Regions from separate parts of the Homo sapiens genome. Here all the other regions are reported to be linked to region 1. The links are microRNA targets in miRTarBase. Many come from high-throughput screens and were not tested one by one. Region 1 holds a microRNA gene; each other region holds the end of a gene's coding sequence.

Evidence for each region. Region 1 holds the annotated microRNA hsa-miR-193a-3p (AACUGGCCUACAAAGUCCCAGU, at 1,086-1,107, opposite strand). A microRNA usually pairs through its seed, bases 2 to 8, with sites in the 3' UTR of a target mRNA and lowers its output. Matches are read on the target gene's strand: a 7mer-m8 pairs with bases 2 to 8, a 7mer-A1 pairs with bases 2 to 7 and ends in A, and an 8mer does both.
Region 2: the mRNA of EBAG9 is a reported target of hsa-miR-193a-3p. Seed matches in the 3' UTR shown: 7mer-A1 at 673-679.
Region 3: miRTarBase lists RGMA as a target of hsa-miR-193a-3p. Seed matches in the 3' UTR shown: 8mer at 938-945.
Region 4: the mRNA of TGFB2 is a reported target of hsa-miR-193a-3p. Seed matches in the 3' UTR shown: 8mer at 1,649-1,656.

What each region holds. Positions count from the first base shown.
Region 1 is chr17:31,558,026-31,561,156 of GRCh38, reverse strand. It overlaps MIR193A (microRNA 193a), which reads right to left and starts at 1,161; the gene lies at 1,074-1,161. RefSeq lists an enhancer at 1,358-2,148 and a silencer at 1,890-2,379.
Region 2 is chr8:109,563,909-109,567,039 of GRCh38, forward strand. It overlaps EBAG9 (estrogen receptor binding site associated antigen 9), which reads left to right. Exons shown (of 7, transcript NM_004215.5): 7 at 531-2,088. The coding sequence ends at 651. Among named protein-coding and RNA genes, the nearest start is that of EBAG9, 25 kb to the left of the region's middle.
Region 3 is chr15:93,042,237-93,045,367 of GRCh38, reverse strand. RGMA (repulsive guidance molecule BMP co-receptor a) reads left to right here. Exons shown (of 4, transcript NM_020211.3): 4 at 1-3,131. The coding sequence ends at 370. Among named protein-coding and RNA genes, the nearest start is that of RGMA, 45 kb to the left of the region's middle.
Region 4 is chr1:218,441,059-218,444,189 of GRCh38, reverse strand. It overlaps TGFB2 (transforming growth factor beta 2), which reads right to left. Exons shown (of 7, transcript NM_003238.6): 7 at 1-2,986. The coding sequence ends at 2,828. TGFB2-OT1 (TGFB2 overlapping transcript 1) reads right to left here and starts at 1,564. Exons shown (of 1, transcript NR_125715.1): 1 at 195-1,564.

The sequences.
Region 1 (3,131 bases):
CTACCACACACCTGACTCCCCTGTGTTGGCTCCCACATGCCCCCAAAACAGGGACAACAGTATGGGCAGGACGCCTGCAAAGGACTACTCTACACGTGGCCTGCAGAGGCAGGGAGCCTGTGGGAAAATGCCTCTTGAATGGGTTTTTACACGACCTGGCAAGGGGTGGGCCAACCTGGCCGTGATGGTTCCTCCCTCTCACCCTCCCTCCTCCCAGCTCCTAAAAACCTCTCCTGTTTTCCAAAGCCAAGTAAGACAGGGACCAGACGTTCCCTATTTTGTCAACCAGTTCTTCACACAGTTCAAGTCACCTCACTGCATGTCCCCAGATGTTTTTCCACGGCCAAGAGCCAAAAACACAACACAAACAAAGGACAAATAACCAAAGTTCCAACACCAGGCAAACCCGAGGTTTCAGGGGTTGGTGGGTTTTTGTTTTCGGGGAGTAGAAGCAAACGCACTAGAGGAATAGATAAGAGACTTTAAAGGAGAGTTTAAGGAATTCCAGCAAAAAACTTGAAGAGGACTAGAGTGGGTCCACATTATGTTGCATCGGTCAGGGAACAAAAGACCGGCCATTGGGAACACATCCACAAAGATCCATCTTTAATGAAATGGTGTTTGGGAGAGGAACAGGGGCTTCCTGCGCCACCGGGCCAAACCTCCGCTTCCCACCTCCCCAGGGGCAATTCTAGAAGTCAGGCCCCGTTCTCCCCACCCCCAAGCTCAAGGTTGCCGCCCTGGAAAGCACAGCAGGGCAGGCCTCGGTAAGTGGCAGGGCTTGGCCCATGGGTAAGCCGGGTCCCGTCTGTCCACTCAACCCAGGTCGCCGGGGCGCGGTCCACGTCTGCCCAAAGGGTACGGACCCCAAGCAGTGACCGACTCACACTTCCGAGAGCGTCGCTATTTCTCCAGCGAAGTGCGGGGATTTCCCGAATCACCGCACGCAGCCGGGGCGAGCGCACCTCACCACTCCTTCTCCAGCGTGGACCTGAGAGGCAGCCTGGCCGGAGCGCACGCCAGCCCGGGAGGAAGCCGGCCTGGGGCGAGGACCGGGGAGAAGACGCTGGTCCCGGGGGCCGAGAACTGGGACTTTGTAGGCCAGTTGATCCGACACCCTCATCTCGCCCGCAAAGACCCAGCCCTCAGCTCCCATCCTCGGAGTTCGGGGTGCGTCCCCGACGGGCTTCCCGGGGCTGGGTCCGGTCGCCGGCTCTGTGCACCGCGCTCCGCTCCGCCGAAGCTCTGGGTGTCCCTCAGGCGGCGTTCCCCGGGAAAGTCCACCGCCCCGCCCGACCTCGGGTCGCGGGCTCCAAACCCAGCCCTCCAAGGGTTACACGACGCTCGGCGGCCTCCACGCCACCCCCGGGCCGCCTCGGCTCAGGCCGAGGGACAGCGCTGGGGGAGGGGGAGGTGCGGGGACCAAAGCCTCCCCACCGCAGCCCCACTCCCGAGTGGGGCGCAAGAGTTATGCGCCGAGAAACTTCGCCACGCTCCCACGCCGCGCCTGCGAGGCCCAGCTCCGCTCTGCCTCGGTTACCTGCGCTCAGCTCGGCGGGCGAGGGGCGCGGGGCGCGGGGCAGGAGCCGTGGCCGACCTCTCGCAGCAGGCCGCACCCTCCCGCAAGGCCGAGCCCGCACCGCTGCCTGGGCACGGGGGCCATAGCCGCTAGCCGGGGCCCGCGCCCCGACGTTCCGGGAGCCCCTCGAACTCCTGGCCGGGGGCCGTGGCCTCGCTCGACCTGCCCGGGACCTGGGGGCCGCCGCCGCCCCCTCCGCTAGGAGAGCGAGCCCGACGAAGCCGGGAGAGGAGCGGGGCGGCGAGACCCCTCGAAAGTTGGGGGGGTCGGCTTGCTCGCCGCGGCCCGACCTGGCTCCACGTGCTGGTGACACATCAGGAAGGCTGCGCGCCCCGCGGCTCCCGGCGGGCGGACGCGGCCAGCGCCCGCCCGCACCGCCTCCCGGAGCCGAGCGGACGGCGCCCCGCCCCGGCCCGCCCTTCGCCCGCCCCTAGGCGGCACCGCCCCCGGCCGCGACGCCCGCTCCAGCCTGCGGCACCGGCGGGAGAGACCCTGACGGCGGTGGGGGGTGGCCCGGGTTCCCAGGTCCCGGGTGGCCCGCACTGCCCCGGGGATGGGGTCCCGACGCGGGCGGCCCTACTCGACAGTCTGGAGTGCCTTCCTCCCAGTCACGCAGTCCTTCCCGCCCCGGAGCCCAGTAATTTTCCCTTTTCCTCCTTTGACCCGTCCGAGCAGCTGCCAGCGCTTCCTCCCGCGGAGACCGGCGCGGGGAGCCCCCTGCCGGCCGCTCCGCTCCCGGGCCGCGCCCCCGCCCGGTGGAGCGCGCCTGCCGCCGGCCTCAACTTCCCCATCTAGAACCTGGAGCCGCCGGGCACTTCTGGCAGGGCTTTGGTGGCAAAGATTATAAATTAAAGTGCCAAGCATAGTACCGGGCAGCATACTTTCTTGAGATGTTAAAATTTCGTGCTTTCAACTCCCAGTTCCAGCGGCCTGCAGACAACCTCTCTTCCTGGCTGTGCTGTTTGAAAAGCTGAGTTCCTTTAGGGAGACTGTGGAAAAGGAGTGGGACAGAAAAGCTTTGAGGCTGAGTAAGAGCTGTCCCAAGATTAGCGAGGGGTGGGAGGTCAGTGGAATCCCCTTGGTGGAGACCTGCTGCCCCACTGTCTCTCCGGAGACGCCAGGATGTGGGAGAGTAACTGCGTGTCTCCTCTGGGACCTGAACCAGGCCTCTACCAAGATCCCCAGCCTCAAGATGGCCAGGATTCCAGGCACCGTGGGTGATGGGGAAGCCCAAATAACCACTGAGGTTGAGTTTCCCAACCTCTTCAGGTCGAGATTTGGAGCCATTTAAAGAAAATAACGTGACATATCTGTTTGTGTCCCGACATAGATATTAGCTATGTTCCTGCCTTCTCTTTCCTGGCCTCACCAACCCAGATCATGCCTTTAAATCTCACTATGAGGCTGGGCACGGTGGCGCACACCTGTAATCCCAGCACTTTGGGAGGCCAAGGCAGGATTGCTTGAGCCCAGGAGTTTGAGACCAGCCTGGGAACATAGTGAGACTCTGTCTTTACAAAAAGTTAAAAAAAAAAAAAAAATTAGCTGGGCG
Region 2 (3,131 bases), not on the chromosome of region 1:
CTTGGTGGAAGGTGTATCTTAAGTTTCCATTTTCTTTTTGGAGCGTGTGTTCTGTTCAGCTGTGTTCATCATGCACTTTAAAAACTGGCTGTTTGTAACTACTATAATAACAGGAGATTATCAAGCTCAATATCAAGCTTTTCTGAATGGTATCCCCAGAAAAAGATGTGGTTCAATGGAAGTATTGTTTTACAAAATGGAGATAATCTAAATAAGAAGTGTCAGAAGATGTGAGTTCTTATCCCTGTACTTAATCCTATGACTTCGGGCAAGTCACTTAGCCTTTATGCCTCATTTTACTTATTTGTAAAATAGAGATAATATTTCTTCTATTTCACAAGTCACGTTCTAAGGACTAAGAGAAATCCTGTTTTTGAAAATATTTGGAATTTTCAAATTAGTGAGAAAATTTTAAGACTTTCAACATTTTATTTGGTGATAATAAAAAGGCACTGCTATTTCTTTCTAGAATTTATTTGCCATTTTACCTGTTTGGTATTTTCTAAAAGTAAAAGTATGTTTCTTTTCAGACAGCAGAAACTAGCAGACAGAGAAAAGAGAGCAGCCGAACAACAAAGGAAGAAAATGGAAAAGGAAGCACAACGGCTAATGAAGAAGGAACAAAACAAAATTGGTGTGAAACTTTCATAACACATGTTCAAATTTTATCATGCCAGTAGGAGAAATCTCAGCTCCACAACCCAAGCAACATTTGTATGGATTTAAGAGTATTTTAAGAAGACATACTGCTTGATTTTAATACATTGATCAGGCCATCCAGGACACCACGATTCTCCCAAAGTACCTTGAACTCTTAGTGATTGAGACTCAAAAAAACAAAAAAGACTTGAGACAATGTTTTCTTCAACATGCTCCAAATATAAGACATTTGTTTGCTGTACAGAAAGTATCACAAATGGAATATATCAGTACCTCTCAAGCTAGTGTTTCTAGCTAAATAAATGGGTGTATATAATTTTATGGTGGAAAAGAACTGTACTGTCTGTTATGATTTCCTTCAATGTGCATAATGATAAAATAAATAATTTTAATATTCTTTTGTTTCCATGGTTACCTGACCTAAATTAGATAAATTGTAGGGCTTTAGCTTTCTTATTTTTGTCAAAAGTTGGTGTTGACATACATTCCCTCTAATTTGAACTGGTATTGTTTACGTTTGATACAACATTAAGGAATTTGATGATTTTCATTTCATGAAAATGACATTAAATGCAATAATTTTACTTATCATAAACATTTTGTACATCATTATTTTCTTTTGGATTAGTGTTGTCATACATGTAATTTATATCACATGTATAAACATTGAAAATCAACTAAAATGACATTTGTTCTACATTATAACTTGTGAGTTTCAAGAACTAGTATTAGTAGTTTTTTCCTTTCATTATAGATTGTAAGATGTTGTGGTATCTTTGAGTGCCTTAGTTCTTCCTTCCTCCCAAAAGCCATTAATTTACAAATGCTTAAAGCCATCAGGTCAAATATTTCAAAGCCTTTAGATGATTTCTGTACTAGCTTTAGATGTCTGACGTTATGTAGGTTACCTGTGTTCTTGGCTAGGAAAACATTATTGATTCATTAAATCATAAAGGTGGGAATAATAATCTTTTATTTATGATGTTGATTGGCTCCAAAATAGTCTTAAGGAAATAAATACTGGGTCTGTAGGGGAAAAGTAGACTTCATAGTTTAAAATCCCATTAACCTTTTCACCGCAGTTGAAATGCATCCAGCCTGATTTTCCTATCATTTTGGAATTTTTAAGGATTTTTACTTTCTTAAGTTACTGCCTAGAATCAACATTCGGTGAGATTTTGAAATGTCATAGATACTGTACAGGCCAAACCTTACTAATTTATTTTACTTAAAGTGATATTTTATAGAAAAATCATAAGTTATACAATGAGAACCCTTTAAGCCCTTAGCCTAAGCTTTCAGACTAAATGTGATTATAGAATAAGATGAAAGTTAACTTTGGTACAGAGCTTTTTATAGCCCCAAATTATATTTCCAGTTATTATATTCATTAGAATTTCTGCTAATAAACTCCCAACTTAAATAGAATTGGGCTCAAAGTTTTAATAATGTATTCTCTTCCTTCTTTGTATTTATAGTTAGTTATTATGGGAATACAACATATCTTCTCTAAATTTGGAATTCATAAAGGATAACTTCCTTTAGCTCAATTACTTGTATTGCTTTTCCCTAGTAGCTGAAAAGTATTTAAGTTTGGTTTGGTCATGATTTTCATGTGTTTGAGGTTTTTGTTGTTGTTGTTTGGCTTTTTGGTTTTTGATTATTTAAAAATAAAGACATTAGCAATTATAGTTAGTATGATTAGGAAGAAATAGATTTTTCTTGTGGAAAGAATAGATAACAATTCTGGAATTTATTTTATCTCTATTGATGTGTAAACTAAATTCCTGTATTAACTTGGGTATATTTTGGTCCCAAAAGTAGTCACTGAGTTAAATGCATATGACAAACAATTCATGGTAGCATACTGTCTCTTTTAGCTACTAAATTTATGGTTTCTATTTTTTGTTTTCTTGATTTCAATAAAGAATTGTCAGTTTTAGATGCTTATTAGAAATAATAAGAAATACTGGTAGGCATAGATAGAATTAGTGAAGTTTTAACCATTAGCAAAATCGTGCATTTCATGTACTGAGATAACAAGTAATCAAAGACATGGGAAACTTACCTTGTGTTTTTTTTTGTTTTGTTTTGTTTTTTATGTAGTAATTTCATGGTTTCTAGCCATTTCCTCTTCTTAAGCTTTACCTAGGGATATTCTCTACTTGGCTCTTCTTTTAGTATAGCATGTTTAATTGAGTTGACATTTTAGAACTGAAAATTTGAAATTCTGCATCCGAATTTCTCAGTTTTGACATGCACTTGCCTCTGGGTGATTATTTCTAGGTTGTTTCTACATGAAGATTGGTGATTGGGCAGAAGGTACCTACAGAAACCAGCATCTGGATCGAGCTTCCAACACCACTCTACAAGCTACCACCATGGCGTAAACCTAACCATAGTCAGTGTTCCAAAAAGCCTGAATTTTGTTGAGAATGGTATGTTTACTAAAGGATGGTTTGAGCCAGACA
Region 3 (3,131 bases), not on the chromosome of region 1:
GGCCTTCCACACCAATGCTGAGGGCACCGGTGCCCGCAGGCTGGCAGCCGCCAGCCCTGCACCCACAGCCCCCGAGACCTTCCCATACGAGACAGCCGTGGCCAAGTGCAAGGAGAAGCTGCCGGTGGAGGACCTGTACTACCAGGCCTGCGTCTTCGACCTCCTCACCACGGGCGACGTGAACTTCACACTGGCCGCCTACTACGCGTTGGAGGATGTCAAGATGCTCCACTCCAACAAAGACAAACTGCACCTGTATGAGAGGACTCGGGACCTGCCAGGCAGGGCGGCTGCGGGGCTGCCCCTGGCCCCCCGGCCCCTCCTGGGCGCCCTCGTCCCGCTCCTGGCCCTGCTCCCTGTGTTCTGCTAGACGCGTAGATGTGGAGGGAGGCGCGGGCTCCGTCCTCTCGGCTTCCCCATGTGTGGGCTGGGACCGCCCACGGGGTGCAGATCTCCTGGCGTGTCCACCATGGCCCCGCAGAACGCCAGGGACCGCCTGCTGCCAAGGGCTCAGGCACGGACCCCTCCCCTTCTAGTGCACGTGACAAGGTTGTGGTGACTGGTGCCATGATGTTTGACAGTAGAGCTGTGTGAGAGGGAGAGCAGCTCCCCTCGCCCCGCCCCTGCAGTGTGAATGTGTGAAACATCCCCTCAGGCTGAAGCCCCCCACCCCCACCAGAGACACACTGGGAACCGTCAGAGTCAGCTCCTTCCCCCTCGCAATGCACTGAAAGGCCCGGCCGACTGCTGCTCGCCGATCCGTGGGGCCCCCTGTGCCCGCCACACGCACGCACACACTCTTACACGAGAGCACACTCGATCCCCCTAGGCCAGCGGGGACACCCCAGCCACACAGGGAGGCATCCTTGGGGCTTGGCCCCAGGCAGGGCAACCCCGGGGCGCTGCTTGGCACCTTAGCAGACTGCTGGAACCTTTTGGCCAGTAGGTCGTGCCCGCCTGGTGCCTTCTGGCCTGTGGCCTCCCTGCCCATGTTCACCTGGCTGCTGTGGGTACCAGTGCAGGTCCCGGTTTTCAGGCACCTGCTCAGCTGCCCGTCTCTGGCCTGGGCCCCTGCCCCTTCCACCCTGTGCTTAGAAAGTCGAAGTGCTTGGTTCTAAATGTCTAAACAGAGAAGAGATCCTTGACTTCTGTTCCTCTCTCTCCTGCAGATGCAAGAGCTCCTGGGCAGGGGTGCCTGGGCCCCAGGGTGTGGCAGGAGACCCAGTGGATGGGGCCAGCTGGCCTGCCCTGATCCTCTGCTTCCTCCTCACAACCCCAAGAGCCCCCAGCCCGGTCCATCCACGTCTGGAGTCTGGGGAGAGGAGCAGGGTCTTAGGACTCTCAGCTCTGAGCATCCCTGGCAGGGTCTTCAACCTCTAATCTCTTCCCTTAAGCCCTGTGGCCACACAGCCAGGAGAGACTTGCCGCTGGCTCCCGCCTCATTTCAGCCCAGGGTGCTCATCCAGGGGCCCAGAACAGTCCCACCTGTGCTGCTGTGCCCACAGCACAAAGCCAGGCTTCACTCCCAAAAGTGCAGCCAGGCCCTGGAGGGTGATCCTGCCAGCAGCCCTACAGCTCCACACCCTACCCACCCATCGGCAGCCCCTCTGCTGTTCCCCAGGGACCTCTCATACACTGGCCAGGAGGCTGCAGAACGTGTGTCTCCCCCTCCCTCCAAGAGGTCCTGCTCCCTCTGCCAGAACCGTGTGTGGGCGGGTGGGAGGGCGCTCGGGGCCCGGCCCCTCCCTCTCCCTGCTGGTTTTAGTTGGTCCCTATGTTGGAAGTAAAAAGTGAAGCACTTTATTTTGGTTGTGTTTGCTCACGTTCTGCTTGGAAGTGGGGACCCCTCACTGCGTCCACGTGTCTGCGACCTGTGTGGAGTGTCACCGCGTGTACATACTGTAAATTATTTATTAATGGCTAAATGCAAGTAAAGTTTGGTTTTTTTGTTATTTTCTTTTAGACGTGTTGGAGTTTGTTTTCTGAACAGACTTTGGCTCCCTTGAGGCGGGTGGAGGATGGACTTTGGTGGTGGGATCCCCTGCAGCAAGTGTGTGTGTGTGCGCGCATGTGTGTGTGCGCGCATGTGTGTATGCATGCCTGTGTGTGTGCGTGCCTGTGTGCGTGCATGTACGCATGTGTGCGCATGCCTGTGTGTGCGCCCATGCCTATGTGTGTGCATGTAGGCATGTGTGTGCGCATGTGTATGTGCGTGAGAATGGTGTGAAGGCGGATAGAAGATGCAGCAGTTTAACAGCCACCACACATTGCTTTTGTAAAGTCACTTTTCCTCCTCACGATGAGCTGTCTTTGGAGCTTGGCAGGCCCAGATCCTCTTGTTCTAGTGACAGTGGAACACAGTCAGGGAGACAGGTGACTATGTGGTGGAGAGACATATGGTGCCCTCTGGGATGAGATGGGTGGGATAGCCTGAGATCTGGGATGACTCCCTCTCAGCCACTGCTATCAGCCTGGAGCCCCAGCTGTTGGGACTGCCTGCCACCCTCCCTGCCAGTGCCCATCTTCTCATAGCCCGGGCGGAGCAGTGGTGCTGCAGGAGGCTGCTGTCCACGTCACTGTGGGACCAGGTTTATTGGCAGCTGTGATCACATTTCATCTGTACAAACTACCCAGTGAATCAGGAAGAAATTCAGGCCCATTTTGCCGATGAAACAGACTCTGAGATTAACTGACTTGCCTAGGGCTCCTTAGCAACGGGAAGGACAACCTGTGCACCTAGGTTAGTATTGTCCTGAAGCCCCTTCTCTTCAAACTAAATGCCATGAGGCAGAATAGCAGCACAGTTAAGCCAGCCTACATCCTGGCTTCTCCACCTCCCCAGCAGTGTGACCATGGGCAAGTCACTTCACCTCTCTGAGCCTGCATGCTGTTCTCTGGAAGATGGGGGGGTGCCTGTCCCATACAGTTGTTTGGAGAGTCAGGAGTTCATTCCTGTAAATTGCTTAGGAGAGGGCGGGGCACACATGGCTTGTCTGGTCGTGGGGAGGGAGGGGGTGGTATTATCCCAAAGCAAGATAAATCAGTTAAGGGGAGAAGGAAAGGGGCGATACAGACCCTGGACTCTTGGGAGAGGTGAACCTGCAGGCTAGCAAGGGGAGGAGTCCCAAGAG
Region 4 (3,131 bases), not on the chromosome of region 1:
TTCTTCTATCCTTGATGGATATGGCCTGACTCTTGTGCTTTAAAGCATGACTTCTGAAGTGACTGTCCTTAAGGGAGAAAGCACAGAGGGCAATCGGAAAGGTGGTATGACTTTTCCAGCTTGAGATAGTCTTATTGCATCACAGGTGTTTTCTAGACTCGATGATGGTACTGATAGGAAAAAGACATCCACATATCATCGAAATAATTTATTTACCACTAGAGCACCACAAAAACAGACATACATCGTGTTAAAATACAGCGTAATTGGTCATCAAAATACAAAACAGCTAATCTTATATTCCATTTTTTAACCATGCCAACGATCAAATTGTACTGCTGATTAACACAAAAATAATTGCTGCCCACTTGCATACTAGCACTTCACCCCTTCCTTGCCACCTCCACCCCCCTCCCATGGCAATATTTACTTATGGGAAATAAAGACCTTACAGAACCCCCAAATTAAAAAAAAAAAAAACAGATTCAAGAGATCTTAAAATAGAGCATTTAAAATATTATCAGTGCATTCATGAGGAAAGACAAAATAATACAAAACAAAATGTCATCCTATCTGAGAGGAAAATGTCTGCAGAAATAAAAGTGATTTACACATAATAGAAAAGTGGAAGACAAAAAAATAATCAACACACACTCAAATCTGGGATTGGGTTACATCCAACACAAGGGCTGTTTACTATTATGGCATCCCATCTCTTGCTTTTCCAGTTTTCAAACTTGCAAATCCAATTCTTTAATTAATGGTCAGGAAATTCCAAAAAAGAAGTAGACCATATCAAACAACTTCACTTTGGATTCCCGCCTCCTTATGCTGCTCTTTAGGTGAAACTGCAAATATTCCATTGCTTTGCCTATTAATTTTTATTTTAAAGCTAAATAAGCGACAAGTGATAAACTGACATATTCTATTAACCCCAGCATGAGGATACCTCTTCTGCAATGATGTGGCAAATTATTTATTAAAGCAAGGTAAACTTTAGCCTCAGATATAGATAACTCTCACTCAGAGGAAAGAAAGAATTTTTTGATCATAGGAAAAATTGGCTTGTGCCTTTTCCCCTTCAAAGAACATTTATAAAAACCTTATAACTTCAGTGAAATACACAAAATGACTTATGCTGACCTGGACTTTTTTCCCCTTTTGAAAAATCGACTAAAATATATATCTTTCAATTTCCCCCTGAATATTAAAAACCTGACTAAAGAAAAAGATGTTTCCTATGAAGTGTCCTCTTTGTAATAACAATAGGATTTTACAAAAATATTGATTAAACCAAGGTAGAGAAACTTTTCTTAACTCAATAAAGATTCTGAGTTTTAGTTAGAACCCTAAATCCTTGCTAAAATGAAAACATTTTACTTCAATTTTCTATGTATCTATAACATTCCTCCTTTTCCTAACATAAAAATTTGTTAACGTCTGACTTGGTTAGTAATGATGCTTGGAAGATGAAGACCACTGAACTCGAACCCATCTTTTCTGTGAAACAAAAAAAAGAAAAGACAAGTGGACCCAGGTAGCTTATGTCATAATAATGAAAGAAACACAAAGCACAAGTAGGGCAAATGTTATTAAAAAAAAAATGCATTTGTAGTGCAAGTCAAACTATAGGGGCTTTACTCAAAAGTACTGGCCAGCTAAAAGAAACATACATTTGTGAGTGATCATTAAAAAGAGCCCAAATTTAAGTCAATCTAAATCATAGTTGACATTATTACAGAATATAAAAAATATGGTAAAAATTTACACATTACACATAAAGTAGTTAATGTTTTGATTTAATAGTTTGCAAAAGAGATCTGCAGATGTGTTTTCAATTATGCTGGCTTCTATATCCATCTATTTTAATAATATAGGTATGGTTACATATACCAAAACAAAGGAAAAAACCTATAGCATAGCTATACAGCAATATTTTAAGGTCTGAAGTTTGACCAGTACATGTCAAAACATTTCAACATTTCACTGGTTTACTAAACTGACAAAGAACCATTTACAATTAAAAAGAAAAAAAAAAACTTACAGACTTATTCTGACTGAAAGTTTCTTTTATTAACAGTCTTTTTAGTTTTTGGACCTTACAAGAAGCTTCCTTAGGCAGCTGATACATAACATGTGTTTTCAGGGTCTTTATCTTAATGCAGACTTTCTCGGTCATATAATAACTCACTTGGGTTTTCATCCCATTAATATGACCTCTTTTTTTCTGGCTCGTTTGAGTTCAAGTTCCTTAAGCCATCCATGAGTTTCTGGCAAAGTATTTGGTCTCCACTTTATACACCTGTTTTATTTTCCAAGGGCAATGAAACGTTCATTATATAGTAACACACAATAAATAACTCACTGTTAACTCTAAGAGTAAGAATGGGAAGGGTGCCTATTGCATAGCAATACAGAAAAATCAAGTGAGGCGCGGGATAGGAACGGTACGTACAGCAACTCCACTTAATGGGATTTTCCTGTTTGTTGTTGTTGTTGTTGTTGTCGTTGTTCACATAATTAACACTAATAAATTCTTCCAGTGTTTATTTTTTTCTTTAAAAAAAATTTGCTTCTTGTCTCTCTCACTTACAAAGTAGGTGAAATGTAGAATAAGGCCTTCAACTTTTTTTGTGTCAGATGCCAGTTTTAACAAACAGAACACAAACTTCCAAAGTGTCTGAACTAGTACCGCCTTTTCAAAAATTTTTTAACACTGATGAACCAAGGCTCTCTTATGTTTTCTTGTTACAAGCATCATCGTTGTCGTCGTCATCATCATTATCATCATCATTGTCATTTTGGTCTTGCCACTTTTCCAAGAATTTTAGCTGCATTTGCAAGACTTTACAATCATATTAGAAAGCTGTTCAATCTTGGGTGTTTTGCCAATGTAGTAGAGAATGGTTAGAGGTTCTAAATCTTGGGACACGCAGCAAGGAGAAGCAGATGCTTCTGGATTTATGGTATTATATAAGCTCAGGACCTGAAAGGACACAGGAGAGGAGAGACAACATAGGGAAAGACGGAAAATGAACGCAATTCGTTTTTAAAAAGAATTCCACATTGTTAGCAGTCACAGCACTGAGTAGGCAATTTAAAATTATTTTTGGTTGCTAATTTCCTAAATT